Regions from separate parts of the Homo sapiens genome. Here region 1 is linked to region 2. The links come from fine-mapping of genetic effects on gene expression. A gene starts in region 2. The other region holds a variant in brackets. All regions are shown on one strand. Distances are from middle to middle.

The links. PIP is the estimated chance that this variant, and not a neighbour inherited with it, causes the effect.
Region 1: its variant is fine-mapped to the expression of ARL3 in skeletal muscle (GTEx, PIP 0.96).

Annotation. Positions count from the first base shown.
Region 1 is chr10:102,667,890-102,682,988 of GRCh38, reverse strand. It overlaps ARL3 (ARF like GTPase 3), which reads left to right. Exons shown (of 6, transcript NM_004311.4): 6 at 6,048-9,258. The coding sequence ends at 6,095. Among named protein-coding and RNA genes, the nearest start is that of TRIM8, 31 kb to the right of the region's middle. RefSeq lists enhancers at 8,635-9,184, 12,088-12,689, 12,690-13,291, 13,292-13,894. The variant G/A (reference allele first, on the strand shown) is at 6,105.
Region 2 is chr10:102,705,793-102,720,891 of GRCh38, reverse strand. ARL3 (ARF like GTPase 3) reads left to right here and starts at 6,495. Exons shown (of 6, transcript NM_004311.4): 1 at 6,495-6,619. The coding sequence starts at 6,617. SFXN2 (sideroflexin 2) reads right to left here and starts at 6,256. Exons shown (of 12, transcript NM_178858.6): 1 at 6,211-6,256. RefSeq lists enhancers at 5,278-5,853, 5,854-6,430 and silencers at 6,216-6,365, 6,184-6,578, 6,646-6,695, 6,736-6,835.

The sequences.
Region 1 (15,099 bases), 38 kb after region 2:
GTTTGAGGTTCACTTTCAAACGTGAAAACTGTGCAATAATTACTGAAATGCCCTAAATTCCTGTTTTTTTCCTCCCTACCCCACCCCACCTCCCCAAAAGCTGGCCCAAATGATTAGGCACTGAATAGGCAAGTCAGGTGACATCTGATTCTAACAACTCTGAAAGAAAATGTACAAAGGTTTAAAAATAAAAAAAGGACCTGGAATTTCTGTTGCAGTTTCAAGTGTTTAAAGACAGACACATACATCGTACATGTTTAATCAAAACATATTTAAGAGACCTGTCTTGTACTGCTTAACAATAGGTAGCCTCACGGGGGCGAGTTAAGGAAACAGCCATGGAGCTGCTAGATGGCAAGCCACGCCCCTCTGTGGATGAAGTAGGGCAGGTACATCACTTCTCATTAGTGGAGTAGCTTAAACACATGATTTGAGACTATGGAAGTTAGTGATTCCTGGGATGGATTTCAGGGTCCCGTTCCACCTGGTGTCCTGAAGGCAGCACATACGAAGCCATTACAGGGGTGGGAAGTACCACGTGTTGTTCACCAGCCTCTGCTTCAGGTGTGGAAACTGACTTTTGAGAGAGGATGGAACCGGGGTTTCTTTTCCTCATTGGTGCTGACTGGGAAGCCAGCCCATTGTATGATTAAAGCAGGTTTTCACGGGAGACCATCAGGAGCAGAGAGTAGGTAAAGGGCACGAGAAGCAGAAGGAGATCATCAATCTCAGAAACTCTGTTGTGCCAAGAGGCCCACTGTCCAGGGGAGTGATGAGGAGAGACCCAGTTATGTCAAGTGGATGAAAGCGGAAAGAGGAGAAACTGAAAAATGTCTGGGAGGGAGAACCGAAGCCAGACTCCATTATCAACATGGAGGAAGTGTCACTCTGCGCCCTCGAGGTCAGGCCCAGGTTGCCAGGGCCCCTCCTAGGATGAAACATTCTGCACTGGGACTCTCAGTCTTTTTTTTCCCTCCTTGGGTGTCTAGAAAATAGTGAACAAAGGATCTGGCTTAGAGCCAGAGAAAGGTATCGAGAAATCCATCCCTCCTCCACCCACAGACCTGAACTTGAACCCCAAACCACAGCTCTTTCTGCTGTTACAGTTCCAGGCATTTGAAGACATTTTCTCTCTAAAATACTCTGAGTGTGCATGTGTGTGTGGTATGTGTAATTAAAATGATACTGGCTTTGAATTTCCTCTCAAAGCAGAGATCCGAAGTTTTAACCTGACCTCTAGCCATGGTCACCACGGAGACTTGCCTCCTCCCATAACCTTAAGCCAGCAGATCGTGCCCTGGGTGCTGCTCTCCAGGCCACCCCCTCATGCTCACCTTTTCTTGTGATGTCTGCCCCACGTTCCTCTCCTCCTCCTGGAGACAGGAGCCATGAGCAGGTCACATAGGCTTTCAGTTGCCTTGTGTCCACAAAAGGGGCCATGAGCAGTCCGAGCGCCGAGCTGTGATCCGTGCCTGAGTCAGCCTCCAGAGGAACACTAAATGCTCACTCGCCCATTTCTTGGTTTTGCTTCTTTTTCCTTGATTTGGGGGACTTGTCCCTAATATGCCACAGAATTTTAATTTTTTTTTTTTTTTTGAGATGGAGTTTCGCTCTTCTTGCCCAGGCTGGAATGCGATGGCACAACCTTGGCTCACTGCAACCTCCACCTCCTGGGTTCAAGCGATTCTCCTGCCTCAGCCTCCCGAGTAGCTGGGATTACAGATGCCCACCACCACGCCTGGCTAATTTTTTGTATTTTTTTTAGTAGCAACGAGGTTTCACCATGTTGGCCAGGCTGGTCTCGAACTCCTGACCTCAGGTGATCCGCCTGCCTCAGCCTCCCAAAGTGCTGGGATTACAGGCGTGAGCCACCACGCCTGGCCTGATATTTTGAAAAACAAAATTTACCACTTCTTTCTAGGCCTGGCATCAGTTATTGTTGACTCCAGGTGTATATGGAACTGCTTATCTGTGAGTCAGACCTCAGGTTTATTTTTAAATTTTCAAACTTTTCTGGAGACTAAGAAAGCAGTCTCAGGACATGCGATTTCACTACCTTTCTGGTGCAATGCCCTTTGTCACCAGAAAAAAAAACTACTAATAGCGAGCCATATTTGATGGAAGCAGCATCCAGCTGCTTCTTGACCCTGGGGGCCTGATGGCACAATGAGGTAGGCTGCATTGCTCAGCAAGGGTCCGAGCACCTCATCATCTTAAAGCAATTACTGCTGTGACCACGTAACCAGCATGGCTCTAAAAACCAGGCCCACACAGCCATGGCTGCCACCGCTTCCTTCCAGCTACCGAGCAGTGATGGATGCAATGTACAGAGATCAAATTTAAGAGAGCAGCATAGTCAGAGACCACTCTTCCCTTGGAAAGAAGCAGTGCACCTTAACTTCTGGGATGCAGAGATTTGGGAGGAGTGAGTTTCCCCTGTATGCTTAGGGGTGGCCTGCTGTTTCTCCCAGTGGTTATAGGGGAGAATAATATTGTGACATAGGAAACTTTATTTCCTCTCTAGGAGGCCAAACAAAGCTCAGTATTTGAAATTCCATGTCTCTCTTTAGTCTCTGTTATTGAATTGAAGCTAATCAATTCAAATTCAGTTTCAGCAAGATTGGTCAGGGGAGGGTCCAGGGAAGGAAGGAAGGGAGGACTATTCATACCGTAAGATCGTCATCCCCATAATGAAGATCAAATGTACAGAAAATTGGTCAAACCAGTTTTTAACAATAAAGATTCGGCCAGGTGCAGTGGCTCACGCCTGTAATCCCAGCACTTTGGGAGACTGAGGTGGGTGGATCACAAGATCAGGAGATCGAGACCATCCTGGCTAACATGGTGAAACGCTGTCTCTACTAAAAATACAAAAATATTAGTCGGGCATGGTGGCGGGCGCCTGTAGTCCCAGCTACTTGGGAGGCTGAGGCAGGAGAATGGCATGAGGCGGAGCTTGCAGCGAGTCGAGATCATGCCACTGCACTCCAGCCTGGGCGACAGAGCAAGACTCCGTCTCAAAAAAAAAGCCTTCCTTGCCAGGTGAAAGCAAGAGTGGTATGGAACATTTATTTAAACATAAGAAGCAGAAGGTTCCTCCTCTTGCAAGTATGTTTTCTCTAAATGTAGCATTTCCACTGGAGGAGGTGGTCTGGGTGGATGGTTAATATGTGAGGATTGTGCAGCCAGGCAGATAACCAGGCCTCTGCATATACAGATACCCACAGCCCAGGAATCTTGAGAACTGAATGGCCCATAACAACCTCTGGCACTATCGGAGCTGCAGGGAGGCTTGGCTGGGGCTACTCCAGTCTCAGGCCCCTGTTTTTAGCGGAAGTCACAAGGAGGATAAAACCAGAATTCCTCCTTTTCCCATCTTCAGGGTGCTTCCCAGCTCCTCTTTAAGCTTGGGGCAGAACCCTTCACCCGGCAGGTACCCACATCCGTGGAGAACTGGTAAGCAGCTCTGGAGCACCACGCTGGGCACCACAGCTTGCCATTGCCCTGCTCTGTCCTGTGCCTTCATCTCCTCAGCTGTGATAGAGAAATAACACCAGCACCTACTTTGCAGGCTTCTACAAGGATTGACTTAAAAGATGTGAATTAAGTGGGCTGTGGGCTAGACATCATGTTAGGTTCTGGGAATATAATCTCCAGCAAGTCTGATGGGAGCCTCCCCTAGGGGAGCTTGGGCACCACCATTGCCTTTCCTTTCCAGGAGGCAGCTTGACAAAGCTTGCCCTGATGTGATTGACAAAGCTTGCCCCAGCTAGATCCATGGCCACGTGATTGAGGAGGTACCATTGTTGGCCAATGCCTCCCCTTCCCTCCCCTCCCACCTCCAGCCCAGTTCTCTTCTGCCCAGCACAAGAAAGATGCCACTCCCCAAGCACTAGCCGCTTCAGATTAGAGGGGCCTCCCGGGCCCAGGGCAGCCACAGGGCTCGGTCCCCTGTTTACGCTCCCTGTGCTTCCCACACTCAGGGTTGCAGCGGCAGCTGCAGGGGCCCAGGCCGGGGGTCAGCTGGCAGGGACTGGCCTCTGTGCGCCCTCTGTTGGCAGGACAGTGGCTAGAAGGGCTTCACCACTGCTGGCCCTCACAGGCACCTGGAGACACCAGACACTGTCCCTCAGCAGGGCTCTGCCGTTTGAACCCTCCTTTGCCTCCATAACAGAGACCCGGCATAAAACCACCCCACACCCTCCACCTTCTGCTTTGGGCTCCTGCAGCTGAGTAAATATTTTTCCTATCTCTTTGCCTGCATTCATGTTCAGTTATATGCAATAATCTCTCCTTAATCAGCCATAAAGCAAGGAAAAGGCAAAGCGCTATTCACATAGTGTGGGCACACTGTCCTTGATTTCTCTGAGAAGATGGTTTGAGTGCGAGCCTCCGTAGAGGAGAGAGTGTTGAGGTGCCCACCTTTGAGTGTTTGTGTGAGCCCCTGAAGGTGGAAAGTGCTATGTAAGTGCTGAGCTATTCAGCTTCCCAGGCGAGAGAAGATGCTTATCTTATTCATCCCTCTTTTATTTGTAAAATCTTTTTTGTCTCTTGACAGGTGATCTTTTTTTTTTCCTGGAAACCAATTAGCTACTAAAATTAAACATGCTTCTCTTTAAATTAATCCTTTTCATAAAATGGTCTTAAAATTGGCCTTAGCTTCTCAGAGTAAGTAGCTGACCCCATTGTAATTAGAGATGCGTTTGGAGTCCTCATTTCTCCCACCTCGGCATTCCTCTGCCCTTCCCCCTGCTGCTGCCAGGTGCTGTCCACCTTCGGGCTTTCGGCGCCACCGGCCTCATCTTGGCAAAGGTCAGATGTCGGCTCTGGGACAGCCGTCAGATTATCTAGTTCTGCTGCCCAAGTGCACTGACAGCAACTGGCAGAGTTGTAATCACTGTAAATTCAGGTGACGGTCAGATGAGCCAGGAGAGAGGATGCCTGCTGGTTGTTTTTTTGCAGTGATGTATTGTTTATGGGATTAATGTTCCGAATGGCCAAGGGTGTCAGCTGATATTTATTACTGTAAGCTGTCTCAGCTGTTCAGGTTCGGCAGCTAGATCCATGGCCACAGGAAATGTGGGACTCGGTGGCATGTCCAGTATGGCTGATGTGTGCAGATGTAGCTGGGACCTCCGTGAGCCTCTGTTACAGATGCAAGGGGAAGGACTCATGGCAGCAGCTGCCTTGGATTTTGTTCAGGGCTTCTGAGGGAACTCCACACACTCTTGAAGGTTGGGGAGACTCTAGGGAAGGGGAGAGTGTCCAGGTTTGGCTCCAAAGGGGGTTGGGAAGGAGTTCACCTCTGACAGGCCTGGCATCCGTAGGAATTATGCTGCCTGCCAGGTAGCTGTAGGCATTGTGTGATTTTTACCTTGGTCCCTCTTCAGCCTTCTAAGAGAGGGCGCTTTCAAGGTCATTGTGCCTTTAAGGGAACCTTCTCCCCAGTCCCTCTGGATGCTGGTGCTTAAAGCTATAAGAAGCGGGCCAGACCCTTTTAAACCTATCTGGAGTGCTGCAGGAAGAGAAGTAAATGCACATCGCCCTGGTGTGTGCCTCGCAACACTCACTGCAGTAGGTTTGTTTTTCCAAAAAGAAATTTAATTTAACCCAAGTGTACACTGTCACACTGTAAACACATGGGGCACCAAAAGGGTGGCTTATTGAATTTAATGCCCTGGCAAAGGTCACCTTTTAGAAAAAGCCAAAAATGGCTGGAATCTTTCCTGATAGCTCTTCAGTCAGGCTTTGGATGCAGGCAGATGTGTTTATTTTTTCAGAGGGAGTTCCTGAGGACCCATCTCAAGTTCAGGCGCTGGGCATCCCCCTCCCATCGCCCTCTTGTGCTCTCAGAGACCTCCCTCCTCCTCCTCCTGGGAGGTCACTGTCCCTGGTCACCCAGGTGGGCCCCTGAGCCAAGCAAACTCCCTAAAGCTGGCGGTCTGGGAGGGAGGGCCTGGGACCCCCACTGCCCGCCCCTCCAGGCTAGAGTGTGTGGTGCTTTTCTTATAACTAACACTGCCTTTCTCTGCCCATTTCCCTCAAAGGATGGCATGAACTGGGTCTGCAAAAATGTCAATGCAAAGAAGAAATAAAATCTAGAC[G/A]AATGGAGATGCAGGAGCTGCGGGAGCCGAATTCGGTCCTGAAAAACACTAATTTGCTGCTTTCTGACCAAATGTTTTTCCATCTGTGTACAGCTCCAGCTGTTTGAAGAGAGGGAACAACACGGTTTAGAAAGAATCCCCATTCCAGCAGTAGATTTAACTGATCTCTGAGGTTCAGTATCATTTTTCAAATAAAGGAATTATATTATTTCCTCTGCATAATTGAAATAGTATTAAATGTCTCAAAGCACATGATTAGAAAATGAGATCTTTTAAATGAGCAAGAGATTGCATTGCAGTTTAGACAATTCCAGTGGGCTTTTTTTTCCTCTCAAAAAAAAAAAAAGAAAAAGAAAAAGAGGAAGAAGCAGCTTTGCTGAGTTCATTTATTTACTGACCCGTCCCTTGCATTCCCTCCATGGTTTTGAAACCACAGACAGTGTTTGCTGGTGCTGTCAGTGATTTTTACCGTCACTAGCCCAGCCAGGCTTCAGTCTGTCCGACAGGAAGCTGCTGGGTGGGGGTGGGGGGAGAAAAGGCAGATAATTAAACCATCTCATCGTCTTGCAGGTCGGAGACTACGTATGTAATCCTCACTCTTTGGACAGAAAAAAAAAAAAAAGTCTTTCTTGCAGACAAGTCACTACAGAAACATACCCCATCCCACCCACCCCTGCCTCTGCCCCAGCCAGCCACACAGAGAAGCAAATTCTTATGACTTTTGACTGTAATGACATCTGGAATGTAAGGAGAGGTGGGAGGTTTAATTCCAGAAAAATTACAAGGTCCTTAAAAAGCTCTCACATCGAGGGCTCAGGCTAGCGTAAACAGGCTTTCTCCAGCTCAGTGGAGCAGTGAGCAGCCGACTCTGAGATTAGCTGGCTTCTCCACGGCCGTCCTATAGACAGGATTTCTAAAGCTCAAAGAATTCTGTGTTTAAACGATCACAATAGGCCGCTGCTATCAGATTTTAGAAATAAATGCAGCTTTACCATGAACCTGCTCCACTGAGAAAAGCCAGGCAGATCGATTTTTAGATCAATTTTTACAGTGCTGGCAACTTGGTGGTGTGGGATGCTCCTGGATGGAGAGGGTTTGCTGCTGGGGAGGACATGGGTGTGTGTGTGACTGCAGGGGTCGTGTCCAAGGAATCAAGAGTCACCCCAGCTGCTGGGCTCCTCTGCCTCTCTGCAGCAGAATGTCCGTCCTCTGTTGATTGATTGGAGAGGAATAGCAGAACATTTCTCCTGCCCCTCGTTGCAAAACGAGCTTGTTTCCCTGAACCTCAGAAATCCTCAGCTTCAAACATGGGGAAACAGGCCAGAGCATTGCCCGGCTCCTGAATTAAACTCTGTTCTGGTGCCTGAGCTCAGGGGTTTTCAGAGAATGAATAAGAGACTGTCCAGTGACTGGTGGGTCCCTGGGGGCCAGCTGCCTTCTCATCCTGGGAGGTGGCCCTTCCCAAGCCCATCAGGGCGTGTGAGCAGACTGAAGGGGCCGCTGCAGCCCCTGGCCCTCAATACCCAGCTGCTTCTGGCTAAGAGTGCAGCAGAGACTGAGGCATAGCCAGCTTCAAAAGCGATCTGACATGAAAGTCATTAACAAAGCCAGCCGTGAAAAGGTGCCCCAGAGTTGCTGTGGACAGACCTGTAAGGACTTGCAAAACAAAAGAAAGTGAGGGGTTTTTTTAACCTCAGAGCTAGCTGCTCTCTGCAGCCTCCTCCACTGGCTTCTCTGGCTCACCCAAGCTCTCCCTTACAGAGGCAACACAGAATTATAAGGAATCAGAAATCCCCCTTCTACCAGGCTGCAAATGTGGCTCTAGCACTTGCAAATTGTTTTTTCTTCCGAATAGTTCAGCAGGGACAAGTTATCTGAGGGGCAAAATGCCTGCTTGGAGGTCTGCAATTTTGGAACACTGCAGTATGGAACTTTGGCATTGGAGGGTCTGTAAAATATTTTTGTTCTTTTACCACCAACTTAGGGGACTGTTTTAAAGAGCCATCCCAAGGCCTCTCCTAGCAGGCAGAAGCCACTCCTCTGATAACGGCCTCTGTAAATGTTCTGATTTGCTCTCAGCTGCAGAGACACAGAGACACTGCAGATGTCACACGCTTTCATCTTCCCTTTGAGCCCTTTTGAACCCTCCTGGGGCTCTGGGGTAGATGAGAGAAGCCTGAAAAAGGCAGAGTTTGAAAGCTCCCATTTAAAAACAAAATACTTTTTAAAGCCCTCTTGCCTCTTCCCTGCCCACTCCTGCCCCCTGACCAGAAGACAGAATTTGAAGCTGGAAAGGGAAGACCCCTTTTCCCCTCCTCCTGTCCCCAGTGAGTCTTAGCGAGACTTTTGCCCTGCGCACAATTGCATCTGAATGTGCGGGGGAGAGGGCTGGGGGCCGGAGGGCAGGCAAGGCCTGGGGGGTGCTCGTGATATGTGCTCAAGCCAGTTGTGGGAAAAACTCGAGTCCTCCCCTCCTCCCGACCTACCCCGTGTGGCTGCTTTTGGCTGGATTCCCTGCACCCAGTGCAACACACCCTTTCCCCTTCACTCTCCCTTGGTTACTATGGAAACAAGGGTGTCATTGATGTGGGCTGAGCTGGGGAACATGTCGGTGCACAGCTGAAAGTCAGCGATTATGCCGGCGGTTAGAAATGTGCCAGGGTTAAAGGAGTCCGCAGCTCCCACGGCTGCTGGGAGGACATGGTCCTGCCCCCTTCCTTCCTCCCTCCCTCCGTCTCCACTTCTCTCTCCTTGCTTTTGACAAATTTCTTTATTCCCCTCTGGACTAAAGTAGTGGCTATTTTTGTGCCACTCTGCGCCCCACCCTCACTGTTGGCCGCTCCTTATCCGGCCTGGCCTGGAGGGTGACACCATGTCACCCTCACCAGGACTCGTCTCTCCATTCCCGTCAGAGTTTGCTTTGATTTCCCTTTCCTTTCCTTCTCGGGGACCAGTTCTTACTTCCTTTTATTTTTAGCTCTGCACTCCATGTGGTTTCAGGGTTCAGTCTGATCCATCAAAAGGTTCTTTTTTTATAATCCCTTTTGAAAATGATAATCAAAGGAAGAGATGTGGTGTTTGGTCATGTGGAAAACTCAATGTATAATTTAGACGTCTGTCAAAAATCCGACAAATAAAATTTAGCTGGAACGAAGGCAGCCTGGAATGTGTTGTGTTCTTTGCTGAAGCTCAGAGAGGGCCTGAAATGTGTTTGTCCTTTCAGGGGTTAGCTTTCTTCAAGAGGTTTTTTCCAGAAGGATATATATATAAAATAGGATACCAACAATAGCAATAATAGCCCTTCATTAAGCCCCTCCTACGTGCCGGGCACTTCAGATACATCGTGGTGAGCATTAGTCCCCCTTTGCAGCAGAGGACATTGAGACATTTGCCCCAGTTAAGGAATTTGCCTGAAATCACAGAGCCTTTAAGTGCAGGTGGGGCCTGGAGCCTGGGTCTCAATGCTCAGCAAGCTGCCGCCTCTGGAGAACAAAAACAGTCAATGGCAAGGCCGGATCACGCCTGTAATCCCAGCACTTTCAGAGGCCAAGGCAGGTAGATCTCCTGAAGTCAGGAGTTCAAGACGAGCCTGACCAACATGGTGAAATCCCGTCTCTACTAAAAATACAAAATTAGCCGGGCGTGGTGGCACGTGCCTGTAATCCCAGCTGCTTGGGAGGCTGAGGCAGGAGAATTGCTTGAACCCAGGAGTCAGAGGTTGCAGTGAGCTGAGATCGTGCCATTGCACTCCAGCCTGGGCAACAGGAGAAAACTCCATTGCAAAAAAAAAAAAAAAAAAAAAATTTGTCAATGGCTCATCTCCCAGCAGCCTCAGCCCCCCCAGCCTCTGAGTGCTACTTCTGCCCAGCCTCCTCCCCTCAGCCTCTGACAAGCACTGCTCCCCTGGGTTCCCTGCCCCAGGTGTTGGGTGTCCTCTGCTCACACAGCACAACCATAGACTGGGTTTCATCCTTGGCCAAGTCCAGCCCAACAGACAGGAAAAAGGGAGAAGAAATAATTAGCAAAGTTAGGGCCTTCAGGGAGACTTGCAGTTACATAGTACCTAATACTGGATCTTCCATTTACAGAGGGTTCCGAGAGGGAACAGACCTGCCCAGTGTTACATGGAAGGTGCAGAGTTGGCAGCTGTCCCGGGCTCTGCCCTCTGGAGCAGAAGAGTTCGTTGTCCCTTCAGCAGGCTAGAGACACAGCAGCACAGCTGGTCCCAAAGGGCCTCACCATTTGTGTGTGTGTGTGTGTGTTTTGTGTTTTTGAGACAGGACTTCGCTCTGTCACCCAGGCTGGAGTGCAGTGGCACAGTCACAACTCACTGCAGCCTCAACCTCCTGGGCTCAGGCCATCCTCCCAACTCAGCCTCCCAAGTGGCTGGGACTAGAGGCATGTACCACCATGTCTGGCTAATTTTTTTTTTTTTTTTTTGAGACAGTCTCGCTCTGTCGCCCAGGCTGGAGTGCAGTGGCGCAATCTCAGCTCACTGCAAGCTCCGCCTCCCGGGTTCATGCCATTCTCCCACCTCAGCCTCCCTAGTAGCTGGGACTACAGGCGTCTGTCACCACGCCGGCTAACTTTTGGGGTTTTTTTGTATTTTTAGTAGAGATGGGGTTTCACCGTGTTAGCCAGGATGGTCTCAATCTCCTGACCTCGTGATCTGCCCACCTCGGCCTCCCAAAGTGCTGGGATTACAGGCGTGGGCCACTGCGCCCGGCCTTTAAAGAGCAAGCTGTGGGCAGAACTAGCTGGTAGCTGGAAGCAGGAGAAAGAAGAATTAGGGTTGCCAGATACATTACAGAACATTCAGTTAAACTTGAATTTCAGATAAACAATGAATAGTTTTTAATTCAAGTATATCCCATGCAATATTTGGGACATCAGTATAACATTAGAAAAATGCATTGTTTACCTTAAATTCAAATTTAACTGGCCATCCTAGCTTTTTGGTTTTGTTTTGATAAAGCTGGCAAAACCCTTCCCAGCACTCCCTGCCCAAAAAAGGGACAGCGCAGTGCAATTAAAAAGTGTGGCTGGGTGCGGTGGCTTATGCCCATAATCCCAGCATTTTCATGTTGACTAGGTCAGCACAGGGAGATTTAAAAGAGATCTCATGTAAACAAAGTGCCTAGATCTAGGACAATACCTAGCACATAGAAGGAACATTCCATGCCTCAGTTTCTTTTTCTTTTCTTTTTTTTTTTGGAGACGGAGTTTCGCTCTTCTGCCCAGACTGGAATTCAGTGGCACGATCTCGGCTCACTGCAACCTCCACCTTCCAGGTTCAAGCGATTCTCCTGCCTCAGCCTCCCGAATAGCTGGGATTACAGGCATGTGCCACCATCCCCAGCTAATTTTTGTATTTTTCGTAGAGATGGGGTTTCACCATATTGACTAGGCTGGTCTTGAACTCCTGACCTCAGGTGATCCACGTGCTTTGGCCTCCCAAAGTGCTGGGATTATAGGCGTGAGCCACCGTGCCTGGCCCTCAGTTTCTTATCTTCAAAATTGGGCAATAATCATGCTGCACAGTTGTCAAGAGGATGAGATGAGATGTCCGTACAGTGAGTAGTAGGTGCTAAATCAATGGTAGCAAATATAACAGCTGGCAGAAAGTCTGGAGTCCAGGCTTTCCAAGGCCCCTAAGACCTCTACCTCCCACCTTCCCTCCCATGTGGCTCTGTGACTTTCAAGGCCAGCAGCCCCCTCCCTTCGGGACTCCCAGGGCCACCCCAACCACACCTCCTGCTTAGCTTTGTAAGTGGGAAAGGCTCTTATCAGAGGCTCCTGATTGGCTCCAGGCGCAAACACAGTTTAGTGCTCAGTCAAGCTGCATCTCACGGCCTCTGTCCCTGTCTCCCCCTCATCCCCCTTAATTGCAATCTGTTCTGTAATTTCCTTTTCCAACACTGCAGAACACAGAGAAGCTGCAGCCACCAGGAGCAGGGGCAGGGAGGAGAGAAAGAGAGCCCTGGCTCCCTGCAGTCATTCTGCTGGTCCAGCACTGGTGTGTGTGTGTGTCCAGAACCAACCACACACAGGCGTGGAAGTGCAGCCAACAACCAGTCCCCCACAGTGTCAGAACCGGGGGAAAGAGTTAAGGAGGTAGCCACTTGCACCAGGTACTTCACAGTTACCTTATTTAATCCTCGCAAAGACACTGTTAACTGTAGGTATTGTCATTCACAGTATGAGGATGGGGCTCATAGAATTTGAATCACTCGCCCATGATCGCACAGGAAGAACTGGGCACAGTCAGGATTTGAACTCAGGCCTATTTCACTGCTGGGTCCCAAATTTATACCACAATACCTGTTTGCTTTTGGCTCCTAATGCTCTGCTCTCAGAAAAGGAGCTAAGGAATCCTTCTGCACGAAGGAACACGGAACAGTTTCTTCTCCAGAGCGAATAGCAGTGTCCCAGGGACAAAAAGCCTTTGCTAAAGAAATGAAATATTAATGACAGAACTGCAGAAAGCAAGCTGTGTCCAGGAGGGGGCAGGGAGAATTTGCTTGGATACCTGAAGCTGAGAGGTACAGGGTTGGGGTCAGAATCCCATTTAGCTAAGCCAACTGCTTCTCCTTTGAGTCATTAGTGGGTCTCATCCTTTGATTAGCCCTACAAGATAGCCGTTTACTGTCCCTAGTTCCCAGATGATGAAACCAAGGCTCACAAAGGTTAAGTCACTTGCCCAGAGTCACACAGCTAGGAAATGGCTTGACTGTGATTCCCGCCAGCCCACTTGCTGAAAGCCCATTTTATTCCATGATGCCACCCCAGGGAGGTAGGTGAGAGGCGGCCCTCGCTTTTTGCCACTCACCCTGTTTTCAGGATCCAGAAGACCCTGCCCTGGGGTCCCAGAGTCAGCTGCTGCTCTGGATGCCACCAGTAGAGGGGGCAGGAGGTGCCCAGCCCCACCCTTACAACCAAGGAAAGGGCCTGGGGAGGCTGTTGTAGTTGGGGCTTTGGCCTGGGATCAGCTGCCTCCACTTCCACCCAGGACTCAGAAGCCCCTGTGCCAGCCCCCTGGAGGCACAGCCCTAGGAGCCCCCCAAGACCGCTGGAGCAGGAGGAGAAAGAGCTCACCATAGGAGACACACGGGCTCCGTCCACAGGCAGGCCCTCTTGGCCACATTCCTAACACTAGAGAGGCCTGTCACCCAGGCCACCACTGACTCATGTGGGAGATTATGCCCCACACCAGAGTACAAGGCGTGGCACCAGCTGCAGGCCCCTCAGCCAGTTCCCTTGGGTAGGGCACAAGCTGTACAGCTACACTTGGCCCTGCCTGTGACACCAGCCAGACCCTTCCCTGGGCCTACATTTCAGCACTGTTCCCCAGCCCAGGCCCAGGCCCACCTAGAGCACCTGGTCCCGGGCTGGAGCCCAGCATTCTCCTTCCCTAGCCCTCCTTGCTGCCAGGACGTCAGAATCCTGCAGAATGATGCTGGTCCACCAACCTCAGCCCCCTTGGATTCCCTTTGGAGGCACAGAGCAAGCCTGGTCTAGGGTTGTCACATAGGAATGGGGCTTCCCTCGAGTCTCCAGGGGACAGTGCCAAAGCAGTTTTCCTGCTGGAATGCTACAGATGGCTTCTGGGAAGATGGGGATAAGAAGCTTTGGTTTGTAAACAACAGCCCATCCTGGACCAAGGGATCCAATCCAGCCCAACTCTTCCCTCACTCTCCCCAGCTCCTATGGGGATGCAGCCTGGATTTCATCCTTACTCATGCCCCAGGCCCCTTTCCCGCCCTGAGACCTCCAGATCTGGCATAGCAGCAGGTCGGAAGAAGAAAAAGCAGGAGGAAGGGGCATTCAGGGGCTGAGATGCTGATCCAGGCAGTGGGGGAGGCATCTGCACAGCTGCAGGCAGCCCCCCTACCCCCAGTCTGTGAATGGGTACATCACCCTCTCCCGCCCGCCTGCCACTGCTCCTGAAACAGTTGGTCCTAATGAACACTAAGCAAGCAGGGCAGCTGTGAGCATGATCCATATGCATGGGAGGTGTATATTTATCCTCACATCCCGCCCCACCCTGCAGCTGCTGCCATCCCCTATGCCAGGAGGGTGAGTGGGCACCAGGGCCCAGCCTGCTCCCGGGCTCCCAGGCCCCCACTTCTCCCAGCCCTCCCTCCCCAACCCACGCCCACAGCCTTCACTTGACCCATTTTGGAGGCAGAAGTTTGTATGTGTGTTTGAGAGAAAGAGAGTGCACACATCATTTCCCTGGTTGGTGCTTTTGATTTCCTCTGAAGCATCTTGATTGCGGATGTACAATGGCATCTTGCTGCCAGTGCTCCCTCAGCAGCTTCTGGCTCCACGCCGCCTCCTCCCTGGAGCCGGGATTTTCTGCTGACTCTGGGGCCCATGGCTAGCTGGCAGGGAAGGGGAAAGCTTGATCCAGGCTTCCATCCCTTGGCTGAGCAGCAGGACCTGGACACCCAGCCACCTGCCTTCCCACTCCTTAGACTGGGTTGAGGGTGCACCCTGAACCCCACCTGTCTCTCCCTTGGCCCTCCCACTGCCTCCCAGCTTGGGCTGGACTCCCCTGCCTGATCCTCCTTTGAGGGGTTAGCGCCATTATTAAAATGCAGTACCCTGCTAAGATGCCTTCAGAGGCCCTGCTGCTGTGGGTCCCTCCAGCCAAACCATTTATCCTGTTATTCAAGGCCCTGCTGATCTGACCCCAAACCTTTTTAATGGACTTATCAGCCATGGACTCCACACAGCCTTTGTGCCCAAGTCTCTCCTCACTACTCCCCCAAGCACAATCCCTACAATTTCATTTTCCCACCTGTGTGCACAGCGACCTCCTCCCTGGGATGTCTGCCCCCTCTTTTGAGCTTTCTGTTCCTTTAGGGCGTGCTTCAAGTCCTACCTCCCTAAGAGGACAGCCGGGTACCCTCTAACCCTCTCCCTGTGAAACCCTTCATCCAGCAAATATCTCTCGAGCAGAAGCAAAACCCCTCCCATAGCCTGTGCCCTG
Region 2 (15,099 bases):
CTAGATTACTGTTTGTCTGAAGAGCTGGAAGATGGTGTGTGTGTGCTCCTGGGTAGCCACTATAACTGGAATATACCAGAGAGGGAATCCCGGGAGTCTTGCTTAGCTTAGCCAAGTTGACACATGACAAATATCCAGAGTGATACCTAGGGTTTCTGACTTGGGCGATAGGTGCTAACAGGGAGAGCACAGAAAAATTGGCTTTGAGGGAGAAAATATTAATAGTAAGCTTGATTTCTGCATGTTAAGTTTCAAATACCATGGGATTTTTTTTTTTTTTTGAGACAGGGTCTTGCTCTGTTGCCCAGGTGGGAGTACAGTGGTATGATCATGGCTCACTACTCCAGCCTCCACCTCCCAGGCTCAAACGATCCTCTGACCTTAGCCTCTCAAGTAGCTGGGACCACAGGCATGTGCCAACATGCCCGGCTAGTTTTTGTATTTTTTGTAGAGACAGGGTCTCCCTATGTTGCTAGGCTGGTCTCAACTCCTGAGCTCAAGGGATCTACCTGCCTCAGCCTCCCAAAGTGCTGGGATTACAGGAGTGAGCTACCAGCCCCGGTCCTGCCATGGGTTTTTTTTTTTTTTTTTTTTTTTTTTGAGAGGGAGTCTTGCTCTGTCACCCAGACTGGAGTGCAGTGGTGCGATCTCGGCTCACTGCAACGTCCACCTCCTGGGTTCAAGCAATTCTCCTGCCTCAGCCTCCTGAGTAGCTGGGATTACAGGTGCGTGCCACCACACCCAGCTAATTGTTTGTATTTTTAGTAGAGACGCGGTTTCACCGTGTTAGCCAGGATGGTCTCGATCTCCTGACCTCGTGACCCATTACCCGCGTCGGCCTCCCCAAGTGTTGGGATTACAGGCGTGAGCCACCAAGCCCGGCCGGGATTTTCTTAAATGCAATAGGCCTCTTCCTGTCTCAGGTCCTTTCCAAACACAATACTCAAAAGCTAGTCTTTCCTCTCTTCACTAAATAGTACCTATTTGTCCTTTTATTTTTTTGTACAAATAATTTTCAGATTTACTTCTATAGCTTCTACTACTAGGTCATTTTGTTTTTTTCTTGGAAATAGCACCTTAGCTAAGTTAAATAATTCACCTGTGAAGTGAGGTGGTATGTTCATTTTGCTCACGACTGTCACCCCAGTGCCTAGCACAATATTCAAGTATTTGCTGAATAAGAAGTTCATCAGCCTGTGGGTATTCAGGCTTGAAAGGAAACAGAGGTCAGAGCTAGAAGGAAAAAACTGAGTCAGCAGCATCGAGGTGATTTACGATAAAGTTTTCCAGTGAGAACACACAGAATGGGAAGAGGAGAGAGCTGAGGACAAACCCTGAAAAATCAGGACATTTAAGAAGCCAAGGCCGGGCACAGTGGCTCACACCTGTAATCCCAGCACTTTGGGAGGCCGAGGCGGGTGGATCACCTGAGGTCAGGGGTTTGAGACCAGGCTGGCCAAGATGGTGAAACCCCATCTCTAATAAAAAAAAAAAATACAAAAATTAGCTGGGCGTGGTGGCAGGCACCTATCATCCTAGCTATTCAGGAGGCTGAGGCACAAGAATTGATTGAACCCAGGAGGCGGAGGTTGCAGTGAGCCGAGATTGTGCCACTGTACTCCAGCCTGGGCAACAGAGTGAGACTCTGTCTCAAAAAAAAAGAAGCTGAGGCCGGGCACGGTGGCTCATGCCTGTAACCCCAGTGCTTTGGAAGGCTGAGGCGGGCGGATCACGAGGTCAGGAGTTTGAGACCAGCCTGGCTAACATGGTGAAACCCTGTCTCTACTAAAAATACAAAAAATTAGCCGGGCGTGGTGGCAGGCGCCTGTAATCCCAGCTACTTGGGAGGCTGAGGCAGGAGAATCACTTGAACCCGGGAGGTGAAGGTTGCAGCGAGCCGAGATGGCGCCACTGCACTCCATCTTGGCAACATAGCAAGACCCTGTCTCAAAAAAAAAAAAAAAAAAAAAAAAGAAGCCGAGAAAAGGAAGCCCCCAAAGATGGGAAGAACCACCAGAAAGAAGAGAGAAAGGAGGTGGAGACAGGCACAGGCCTGTAATCCCAGCACTTTGGGAGGCCAGGAGTTCAAGTTCAAGAAAGGAGGCAGAAGGGACAGTGTTGGGGAAGGAAGAGCAGTGGTCAATTTTTAGATTTTTCGTTAAGGCGGAAGAGACATCAGGAAGCTGATATGCTGGAGGTACGCCATTTCCTAAGAGGAAAGACCAGGAACAAGAGGAGAGGCTCAATATGGAGTATCCACAGCGCCCTGGCCTGGCCCCGATGCTTCTCTGAAGCGGCAATCTCCAGAGAAGTCAGAAGGCAGACAGAAAGAGTCCACTGCCAAAACAGACTTCCCCTCTCCCTGCCACCTGGCCTCCTGCAGGCTGCTTCAAAGACCAAAGGCATTTATCTCAGTCCCAGCTGAAGCAAGAGTGGGAGGAGGGGAAAGAGTTCACTTTCCCATGCTCTACATGAACCTAAAAGGAGTCAGCTTGGCTGGCTGAACACACGCTGCCTTGGCTTACAGAGCCCCAGGCTCATACATGCTGGAGACAGCCTGACTGAGCAAAATGCTATGCCTCCCCCTCAGCACACACATACACACAGAGCCAGACCTTCTCTGACATCTCTGTTCACCTTAACACAACATTGCAAAGTCCTCTGCTTCTCAGAATGGAGGGACTATCATCAAGGGGTAATCTAAACATTTGCTAATTATGCAAGAGCCTTTGCCTTCTTAATTGAAGTCAGGATAGAAACTGCAGAGTCCCTGTCTTAAATAAAACATAAAGCCAAAACAAAAACAAAACAAAAAAAACACTAAACGATCTGTCTGGAACATTTCCCCCCACACACCCACTGTCCCCCAATGGGCACTCTTCCCCGACTCCTTCAGGACAAACTCAAATCCTTCTGTGATATATACTCCTACAGCATCCTGTCCTTTGCAGCATGCTGGGCGTTTGTGATTGTCACCTTCTTGTCATTGACTGTGATTTGTGTAAAGTCTGCCTCCCCTGACAGACTGTAAGGCTCACAAGCATCGGGATCATGTCTGTGATGTTTACTGCTACATGTTTCACATGCCCTCGAAGAATATTTACTGCTTACCTGAAATGCATTCCAACTTCTTCTTGGGTCTCTTGGCATCAAGGATGTCACCTCTTTTAAGTCAAACTTAGAACCTGCCTAGGTTACAGAATTAAGAGCACGCTTTCTTTCATGAAGTTGCAAAACTGTCTACCTTGCCTGTACTAAGTCATACTGGTCTCTAAATTTTCTTCTACAGTTACTGTCCCTCCTCCCACACAAGCCACATCTAGTCTTCCCTAAAAAGGTCATCATCATGTCCAGGGTAGCCCCACTTCTGTATGGTCCCACTACTAGGAACAAAGTAGGAGTAAAAATCAGACCAGTGATTTAATGATATCTCCCTCCTAGGATTAGAGAATGTCACAGCTTGAGGCCGGGCGCAGTGGCTCACGCCTGTAATCCCAGCAATTTAGGAGGCCGAGGCGGACGGATCACGAGGTCAGATCGAGACCATCCTGGCTAACCCTGTGAAACTCTGTCTCTACTAAAAATACAAAAAATTAGCCAGGCGTGGTGGCACGCACCTGTAATCCTAGCTACTCAGGAAGCTGAGGAAGGAGGATCGCTTGAACCCGGGAGGCGGAGGTTGTAGTGAGCCAAGATCGCACCACTGCACTCCAGTCTGGGTGACAGAGCGAGACTCCGTCTCCACAAAAAAAAAAAAAAAAAAAAAAGAGAGAGAGAATGTCATAGCCTGAAGACATGTGATCTAAGATCTCAGTTTACAGAAGAGGAAACTGAAGCCTAGAAAGGTGCACATGGATTGGGCCACCACAGTGGGCATTTTTGATACACTTGGCCCTGCACTAAGCGCTTGCAGCAGATATAAACACGAACAATCAACAGATCCAGTCCTCAAAGATTGGACAACAGCTAAGGCCTTACTTCCCCAAGGTCCTCTATCCACTATAGCCTACTTGCCAACTCCGAGGCCTGGCACGGTGGCTCACACCTGTAATCCCAACACTTTGAGAGCCCAAAGCAGAGAGATCACCTGAGGTTGAGAGTTCAAGACCAGCCTGACCAACATGGAGAAACCCCCGTCTCTACTAAAAATAAAAAATTAGCCAGGCGTGGTGGTGCATACCTGTAATCCCAGCTACTTGGGAGGCTAAGGCAGGAGAATCGTTTGAACCCGAGAGGTGGAGGTTGTGATGAGCCGAGATCGCACCGTTGCACTCCAGCCTGGGCAATAAGAGTGAAACTCCATCTCAAAAAAAAAAAAAAAAAAAAAAAGGAAAGAAAGAGAGGGAAACAAAGAGAAAAAAAAAGTAATAGACTACTGCCACCTCTGACGTAATGCTCATCCTTCCCAGAAAGAGCAGATTTTCTCTGGCAAATGGTATCAGAGATCAGAAAACAAGCTTCCAAATTCCTTCTGAGGTATCCTCTTACAAGCAGAAGTGCACAAGATTACTGTTTGTAGCCCCAGGTAGGGAGAAAAACGAAACATCATCGCTGGTACTCACATCAGAGGAAGATCAAGGTAGCCAAAGACCCCAGAAGGTCAGACACAAAGACCACTGAGACAGGCAAGGATTAAGGTCAAGGCTGCCTAGAGCAAGCTGGAAAATGAGGGTAATAATTACAAGAGCAGGCCCAGGTATAGGCTTATGGGTACTCGTCTGACTCCAAGGCAAGTGGGCTGTTAGGCACCAGACAACTTAGAAAGAGCAACCTCCCTTGCCTTTTTCACAAAAGGGCCAACAGTCTGGAGATGAGTAGATTATAGGGGTTTGTGCTCCTGTATCACCTCCATTCATCACCTCCTTAGTCAAGGCTCTGAACTGCTTTTTCTCTCCAAGGATCTGAAGCAGGTATGCAAGCAGCAGATGTTGATTTTTGTTTTCATTTTTTTTTTTTTTTTTGAGGCAGGGTCTTGCTCTTTCACCCAGGCTGGAGTACAGTGATGTGATAATAGCTCCTGGGCTCAAGCAATCCTCCAGCCTCAACCTCCCGAGTAGCTAGGACTACAAGTGCGCCACGGAACCTGGCTAATTAAAAAAAATTTTTTTTTGTAGAGGCAGGGTCCTACTGTGTTGCCCGGGCTGGTCTCCAACTCCTGGGCTCAAGCCTTCCTCCCCTTCCACCTCTCAAAGTGCTGGGATTATAGGCATGAGCCACTGCGCCTGGCCGCAATTACCAATTTCTAGGGGTTGTGAAAATGAAATTTGGTATGAAATGTATTTCATTAGGAAGGATGTAATTTCCATACGGGCTGATTTTGTCCACTGCTGTGTCTCCAGCGTCTAGAACAGGGCCTAGCACGTTTGTGTAAACTCTTCTTATAGTCCTCTGCATCGGGAAAGGGATGGGAGGTAGCACTTCCCAACCCACCCCAGTGTCCCACTTGCTCTTCCTTGGCTAAAAATGCAGGCTCATTTTTGCCTCCTCCAGGACTACAGATGGTACGCGGTCCTGTCCAAAGCAGCTTAGCAAAACCGGCCAGAGGCTGGGCACAGTGGCTCACCACTTTGGAACACCTGTAGTCTCAGCACTTTGGGAGGCCTAGGCGGGCGGATGGCTTGACCCCAGGAGTTCGAGCCCAGCCTGGGCAACATGGCGAAACTCCGTCTCTACAAAAACAAAATACAAAAAATTATCCAGGCGTGGTGGCGCCCGCCTGCAATCCCAGCTACTCGAGAGTCTGAGGCGGGAGAATCGCTTAAGCCTGTGAGGCAAAGGCTGCAGTGAGCCGAGATCGCGCCACCGCACTCCGGCCCGGGCGACAGAGCGACACCCTGTGTCAAAACAAAAACCGGGCCGATCCCCAAAACGCCTTTCACCTGTGCTTTCAGCTCACCTCAGGGCTCAGGGCCAGCCCCCAGGCTGCTTCTTGCCCTCCGACAGACGGCCTCCCCCCATCGGTACTCCCCCATCCCGGACAGCTCGTAACGCCCCAGCCGCTCGGCCTGGCACTCCTAGGCAATGGGGGTCAGAGCAGAGGGGCCCATCTGCAGCCCCAGGGCGCACTTCGCGCCACGTGGCTTCTGCAGGTGGAAGTCCAGCCCGCGCTGCAGCCCCGCCTGGGCAGTCAGGACAGCAATCTCAGCACCCACCCGAGATGTGGGGATTGGAGGTAGACAGGGCGAGCGCCATTGTCCCAAGGCCCCTTACCTGGTCCCGGGACAAATGCCACCAGTTACAGCCCGCCTTGAAAACTGGCCCGGGTGAGAGGAGGACCTGGGCTGGGGAACTGCCCCCACGCCCGCCCCACGCCCCTCCTTTTCGACCAATCCCAGGCCGGGAGGCTCCCGCCAGCCACGTGGGCAGGCTTTCTCCACTCCCTGGTCCAGGCGAGCCGGCGGCGGCCTCTGCAGCTCCCGTAGCCCGCCCACTGCGTGGGCGGGCGCCTTAGCGCACTTGCGCACTCTGGGGAAAGCGGAGCTGCACCCCGCCCCGTATTGCTGCTCAGCTCCTCAGCTGTGCGTGCGAGGGACGTCGGGGGCGGCGCCGCAGCAGTTGCCCCTGGTAACGGGGGAGGCAGCAGGAGGAGGAGGAGGAGGAGGGACTCGGCGGGAGGATGGTGAGTGTGGGGGCCTGGGCCCCCTTGGAGCCGGCCGGTTATCCCCCTCCCGTCCCCAGGCCCAGGGCGGAGCACTGCGCTTAAAGCCAAGGAGGGAATGGGACGTCGCTCAGCCTGCTATCTGGGTTGTGGACTGATTTCGGGGGTCGGCGGGGAGACCCGAGGGTGGGCCCTGGAGGGAGGCCTGGGCCTGGAGAGGAAGGCGGGGCTTGCAGCGGGTCCGAGGCTTGGGGAAGGGGCTGGCAGAGTGCGCGGCTGGCCGGGTGCGGAGCCCGGGCTCCATCATTACTCTGGGGACAGGGGTGAGGGCGGATCCCAGGAACTGCGGAGAGCAGCTTTCGCTAGCAGGCTTAGACTTCCCGGGCAATCGGTCTCGCGGCTTTGCAGTAAAGTGGGGTTCGTCTGGAGCCCGGCCAGAAGCGGAGAGAAGGCCGGCCCCATTGGCTCTGAGGTCGCCCTGGCGGTAGCAGGGGAGATGGTAGCCTAGCTCTCCTCCTTCTCGCGCTGTGCGGGCCCCTGGGGGGTAGGGAAGTAAGTCCCACGACACAAAGGGGTGCCGCTTGGAAGGGATGCCTGGTGGATTTTACGCCGTCTTGGTGTCTGCGTGGCGGGTGCGCTTCCTCAGTCCCGAATTATTTAGTTATTTGCTGAGAGTTTTGCAGGATCTGATTGTTGGTGATGACCGATTTTTCATTCAATACATAATCCATGTTGATGAAGACATATTAGCTGCTCCGTCTCTAGAATTTCCTTCGAAACCTTTTGCAGTCTCCTCTTGCGTGTGACCATACCAGGACCAAAAGATCTTAATCCTAGCTTGAGTTCTCCAAACTGAAAAGAACGAGAAGTTAAAAATGGAGATCGAACTTCAATCCGGGGCAAGGCTTTTCTCTGTCAGTCCCAATTAAAGCTTTCCCAAATTCTAAATTATGGTTGTGACAGATCTGACCGTTGACACTCTGTTTCTTGTTAATGTCTGTACAGTTAGTTGGAGGGAGTTAAAATGGAATTGAGTAATTTTAGAGCTATCAAAGAAAAATTGATTTTGAACACTTAAAGCAGGTTAGTTGGCTGCAAAGAGCCTGTCATCAAACTTATAGTCACTGCTCCAACTCTCTTCCTAGTTCCTTTCTTGACTTTTAGAAATGTTGAGCCATTTCTGTTGATTTAAGAAGTAAAAAAAAAAACAAAAAAACTAGATGCCCAGGAAAAAAAAAAATAGATGTATGTTTGGTCAGATTATCCAGTGAGTAGATTTAGAAAGGAAAAAAAAAACTCAATTGATTTTACATTGTCAGATTGTTAAAGAAGTAGGGTTATTTGATCTGAAGTTGCCAATCACATTTCACACTTGCTACACTTGCAGTTTTTTTTTAACCTCAGGCTAAACAGATTTTTACAACTGTTTCTTTTTCTTAATCATTTATACGTGAGCTGTCCTTTTAAAGTTAAAGTTTTTCTCAACAAATGAGTACAAACATAAATATTTACCCAGAAAATAGCTAGAATTGGAATGAAAAGGGCATGCCGAACCAACAGAGATTGAGATTCATCATTATGGATGAGAAGTGCATGAGAGTTGGCTAACTTTTCCCAGTTTGTTGATCAATTAAGTGTACTGTGTAATCCATGATTGTTTAATTTATAATTACAGGCCACAGTAAATTAACCACTGCCCATGTTTCCAGGTGCAAATTGGCACAGTATACAACAAATTTACAGTGTATATACAACACTGTTGTATACAACTGTTGTGTTCAATGATGAAAACAGATTTTGTTTTTCTTTTTTCCTTTTTCCTAAGATGAACAATAAGAAATTAAGACAAATTATTCCGGATTCTTTATCTGGTTTCCCAAAAACATTTTTTTTCTATCTCCACAAGCGTGAGCTGTTCTTAAAACTTGAAGTGAAACACTGAATTTAGTCAGTCGTGTGACTTAAGTGTATCCCATCTGGTATCCCATGAGCCCCCATGGTTAACTGTACAACTGAAGCGTGAACCCCAAGGTTTTTTTGGTTTTTGTTTTAAACTTCAGCTGTGACAAATACATATTTTTTTTCAAATTTGGGTAACTGTGGCAAAAACCCAAATATGGGTTTCTCTGAACATTTAGAGTCAGCTATTTTACCCCTGCTTTACAGTGCCAGGTTCTTGATGAATTACTAAAATACTAAAATGACAGTAATTTTAGCACGTAACTAACCACTTATATTTAACATATGATTCCTTCATTCAGTAATTATTTATGGAGCACTTTCTACATATATGGAGCTTGTGGTCGTTCTCAAGCATGTTCAACATTTGAAGATTGTTCCCAACAGTTACTTATGTTTTCTGGTTAGAAAATGGCCCGTGAAAAATTATTTTAAAAAAATAAACAAAACACGAGGGTAGTCTTTTCAGTGGCTGTTATGTGTCATGCTTTACATACATGACCTCATTTCATCCTCATAGCATCATCTCTTGAGATGTAAGTATTGTTCCTGTTTTCTTCTTTTTTTTTTCTTTTTTTGAGACGGAGTCTTGCTCTGTCACCCAGACTGGAGTGCAGTGGCGCGATCTCCGTTCACTGCAAGCTCCGCCTCCCGGGTTCACGCCATTCTCCTGCCTTAGCCTCCGCAGCAGATGGGACTATGGGCGCCCGCCACCACGCCCGGCTAATTTTGTGTGTGTGTGTTTTTAGTAGAGACGGGGTTTCACCATGTTAGCCAGGATGGTCTGTATCTCCTGACCTCGTGATCCGCCCGCCTCGGCCTCCCAAAGTGCCGGGATTACAGGCGTGAGCCACCGCGCCCGGCCTGTTCCTATTTTCTAGCTGAAACTGTGTGCAGTGTTATGTATATACATATATATATATAAAAACACACACACACATACATATATATACATATATATATACAGATACATATACATACATATATATATATATATACACACACACACACACACACACAGAAGCTGAATACAAGTCTGTGAAATTCTAAAGCCCATAACATTCATTTCATTAGGACTCTGGTGAAGTGGGAACCCACTCTTCCTGAGGAGATGCTCAGACTTTGTTCCTTAGGAAACATTGTTTGTATTTATTTAGGAGAGGGTGATGAGAAAGAAGACACAGTTTGGATTAAGTTCTCAATTTTGAGCTTTAAGCTGATAGGAGTTCAGTTGAAAGACGTAAAAACAAATGGAAGTCAGTTATATTTAAGCTAGTTATGGGGACCGTATGTACTTGACTGTTGGCTTCGTAATTTCAGAATTCAAATTTTAGCTGGTCCTCACAACCACATATATTTTCCATATACCAACGCATTCCTTCTCCCTCCACCACTCTGGTTTCTTTGAATGACCTAGTTTGTATTGTTTTAGGTCAGGGCACCATGCCTCTGCCAGTAGTTTAAGCTGATTTCGAGGCAGATAAAACGTCTGTAGTCCATAGCACATCTATTCATGATTTGACTGTAGAAAAGTTTGTTTAAATGTTTTGTGGTTGAGTCAGACCACTTCTGCCCACCAGGGTGTAGATAACTTGTATACACACATGCTGGTAACACACAATATACTTTTAACTGAAGTTCATGTTTCTTAAATTGTTTTATTTAATGTCACAGGAATATAAATCCTACATAGAGATCATGCCCGTTTTGCTCACTGTTGTACTTGGGGCACATTAAGGGTGTTTAATGATAATTGCGTGAATGGATATTTTGGCCAAAAAATGCACTTTAAAAATTAATGTCATTGTATTTATACTGCAAAACTCAGCCCTATGATAAATTTAACTTCTAATCGCTGTCTCCCTTCATTTGACAGTTAAAATAAAATATGGGCATATATGTATAGATGCACAGAATAGACTTATTCTGGTCTCTTTCATCCAGCCTCTTAAATCAGCTTACTTTGTACCTTTCAGGCAGAACCCTGATCTCTATAAATATCCTCTTCCCTATTTAGCAAACCCTGATAATCCTGTGATCCCATCCTCAGTAGTTGGATTAATATGATGCTGTATTATATTTGCACTTGTCTTCCCTAGACCATGCTTGAAATGCCATTTATCATTTTGCTGGAAGAAAACATTAGCTGAACTTTGCATTTCTCTGTAATTTCACTCAAAGGTGAAGTATCTGAAGTTATTATTTCCTAATAAGGAAAATTACTCATTAGAAATGTAGAAGCACTGTATTCTACACCATTAGGTTAATAAAGTTTATCTATAGTTAGAATTTTTTTTTTTTTTGAAACAGTCTAGCTCTGTGGCCCAGGCTGGAGTACACTGGTGTGATCTCGGCTCACTGCAACCTCCACCTCGCAGGTTCAAGCGATTCTCCTGCCTCAGCCTCCCAAGTAGCTGGGAATATAGGTGCCCACCACCATGCCTGGCCAATTTTTTGTATTTTTAGTAGAGGCAGGGTTTCACCATGTTGGCCAGGTTGGTCTCAAACTCCTGGCCTCAAATGATCCGCCAGCCTCAGCCTCCCGAAGTGCTGGGATTACAGGCATGAGCCACTGCACTCAGCCTTATAGTTAGAATGATTTCTTTTTCTTTCTTATCTGTGCTTTGCTCCTCTCCTTTTAAGGTGAATAAACATTATGTTTGTCTCTTTTTTTTTTTTTTTTTTTTTGAGACAGAGTCTTGCTCTGTCACCTAGCCCATAATGCAGTGGCCCGACCATAGTTCACTGCAGCCTCAAACTCTTGGGCTCAAGCCATCCTTCTGTCTCAGCCTCCTGAGTAGCTGGAACCGCAGGTGCACACCACCACACCTGGATAATTTTTTTTTTTTTTTTTTGGTAGGGATATGTGTCTCGTGTTTGTTGCCCAGGCTGATCTTGAATTCCTGGCCTTGAGCTATCCTCCTGCCTCAGCCTCCCAAAGCACTGGTATTACAGGTGTGAACCACTGTGCCTGGCCTTGTTTTTCTCTTAATTCTTTAATATCAAATGTAATGAGTGTGGAGCAAGTCTCTGCCTGAAAAAAAAAACAGTATTTTTAGTAACTTCTTTAAAAGAGACACATGAGGAAAAACCCAAAACATTAATTTTAAACTTTGAAAATATTTTATAGGCCGGGTGCAGTGGCTCACTCTTGTAATCCCAGCACTTTGGGAGGCCGTCACGGGCAGATTGCCTAAGGCCAGGAGTTTGAGACTAGCTTGGGCAACATAGTGAAACCCTGTCTCTACTAAAAATACACAAAATTAGCTGGGTGCGGTTGTACACATCTATAGTCCCAGCTACTCCGGAGGCTGAGGTGGAAGGATCACCTGAGCCTGGGAGGCTGAAGCTGTAGTGAACCATGATTTCACCACTGTACTCCAGCCTGGCATTAGGAGTGAGACCTTGTCTCAAAAAAAAAAAAAATATATATATATATATATATATAATATATGGTTTTATTTTTTGTTTTTGTTTTGAGATGGAGTTTCACTTTTGTTGTCCAGGCTGGAGTGCAGAGGCATGATCTTGGCTCACTGCAACCTCTACCTCCTGGGTTTAAGCAATTCTCCTGCCTCAGCTTCCCAAGTAGCTGGGATTACAGGCATGTGCCACCATACCCGGCTAATTTTGTATTTTTAGTAGATACGGGATTTCGCCATGTTGGCCAGGCTGGTCTCGAACTCCTGACCTCAAGTGATCCACCCACCTCGGCCTCCCAAAGTGCTGGAATTACAGGTGTGAGCCACCACACCCGGCCAAAAAAAATTTTTTTTAAAATAGGAAACAGATCTTCCTTCATAATTTCTGCACTAAGCAGAAAATGCATGAGAAGAACTTTGCCTGTGTCATTTAATGTACTAATTTGATAAATTCCAGATGTTTTATAATTTATTTTAAGAGGTAATGAGACCTCTTCTTTTCACTTACAATCAGGAACTCAGGATGAGTAGTAAAATGGGTTTTCCTCTTAGCCTTTTTATGTCACCAGTCCCCTAAGGATCTCAGAATTTTAATTTTTACTTTTCTGAAAGGTGATATTATAAATGAGTGATTGCAATATAGCTAATAGAAACCAGGGAGACTTCTTGTAAATATAGTTTTAAGAAGGAATGCTGTCAAAGTATTCAAGACCAGATGAGATAAAAACAGCAAAAAAAAAAATCTTGCCTTTGGGTGGATCGCTTGAGCTTAGGAGTTCAAGACCAGCCTGGGCAACATGGCAAAACCCCATCTCTACAAAAAATACAAAACTTAGTGGGGCGTGGTGGTGTGAGCCGGTAGTCCCAGCTACTGGAGAGGCTGAGGTGGGAGGATCGCTTGAGCCCAGGGAGTCGAAGCTGCAGTTAGCCGTGTTCACGCCACTACATTCCAGCCTAGGCCACAGAGGAAGACCCTGTCCCCCCAAAAAAAAGAAAAAGGAAAAAAAAGTCTGGCCTTTTAAAAAGCCAGACTTCTGTTTGTTTCCAATCTATTCAATCTCTGTCCCCCAAATCTTTTGGCATAGAATTTGTCTAGCTTAGACTAAACCTTCCATCTTACTGCTGGAAAAAATTGAGGCATAGAAAGGTTAATGTGGTCCTTAGCAAGTCAGTACAGATACAGTACTAGAAGTGGTAAACAAAGAGTCTCTGAGGCAGAAAGGAATTCTTAATAATTATGCATATTTGCGTATGATTGTCCAAAGATGCAGTTGTTGAGAATTATTTCTCAGAAGTATCCTTTGATCTTAGTGAACAAACTGGTTTGAATTATTGCCTGGTACAATGTGAATAACAAATACAACCATTTTGCATAATTCTAAGACTCAGTTTGAAGGAATTTCTTCTTGGGCTGGGAGATTAAATTATATGCCCTTTAAACTCTGGGATTCTTTGACTCTTGTTCTAGCCATGTGTCGTTAGAACAAGATTATCAGCTATAGCACAGAACAAATAACTTTCCTATAAAGATGTTCTTATGTTCTTAACTAAAAATCAACATGGTTTATTTATTTTTTCTTTGTTTTCTTTTTCTTTTTTCTTTTTTTTTCTTTTTGAGACAGAGTCTCACTCTGTCACCCAGGCTGGAGTGCAGTGGTACAAATACAGCTTACTGCAATCTCGACCTCCCAGGCTCTAGCAATTCTCTCACCTCAGCTTCCTGAGTAGCTGGGACCACAGGCCTGCGCCACCATGCCTGGCTTATTTGTTTTTTATTTTTTGTAGGGACAGGGTCTCACTATGTTGCCAGGGCTGGTCTTGAACTCCTGGGCTCAAGCAGCCCTCCTGCCTTGGCCTCCCAAAGTGCTGGGATTATAGGCGTGAGCCACCATGCCCAGCAACATGCTTTATATTTCTATCCATAAAAAATAATAAATAATGGCCAGGAGAGGTGGCTCATGGCCTGTAATCCCAGCACTTTGGGAGGCCAAGGTGGGCTGATCGCTGGAGGCCAGGAGTTCAAGACCAGCCTGGCTAACATGGCGAAACCCCATCTCTACTAAAAATATAAAAATTAGCTAGGCATGGTGGCACATGCCTGTAATACCAGCTACTCTGGAGGCTGAGGCACAAGAATTGCTTGAACCCAGGAGACAGAGGTTGTAGTTGAGCCGAGATTGCACCACTGCACTCCAGCCTGGGTGACAGAGGGAAATATTAGATTAACAGTAAAAAATTCCTTGGTTAATTTTGGTGGGTTTTTGTTTTGTTTTGTTTTGTTTTGCTTCATGGATGCCTTTTATGATTTCTTAACTTCTCTGTTGTACCAAATTTTTCATCTAAAAAACACAGATTATCTATACCATGCACCTATCCTGTAGGGTCTTGTGAAAGATGATAGTAGAACATTTTGAATGAAGAAGTCTTGAAGATGTGCTGAAATAGATAAAATCTTTTTTTTTGAGACGGAGTCTTGCTCTGTCACCCAGGCTGGAGTGCAGTGTGCAATATCGGCTCACTGCAACCTCCGCCTCCCAGGTTCAAGCGATTCTCCTGCCTCAGCATTTCGAGTAGGTGGGACTACAAAGCGCCTGCCACCACGCCCGACTAATTTTTTATATTTTTTGTAGAGACAGGGTTTCACCGTGTTAGCCAGGATGGTCTCGATCTCCTGACCTCGTGATCCGCCCACCTTGGCCTCCCAAAGTGCTGGGATTACAGATGTGAGCCACCGTGCCCGGCGATAAAATCTTTTTTAAAAATTTTTTCCTTTTAATTTTTGTGGGTCCATGGTGTTATATATTTATAGGGTACATGAGATGTTTTGATACAGGCATGCAATGTGAAATGATGAAATAGATAAAATCATTAACAGGAAGCCCAACTATAATTTTATATAGCCTTTTTATATATTTTTGTATAACACCTTAAAATCGTGTGTTAACTTGGGTGTGTCATCCTATTTAATTCCACAAGTGTTATCTAGTGTCTGTTTGATAAGTGCCAGGCATTATGGGACAAGTATAGCCCTTACCACGAGAAACTTTAGTAAAGGAGAAAAATACAAACATCAGTTACCTAGTTTGATATGATGAATGTTCTGCTCTAAGTGTATGTAAA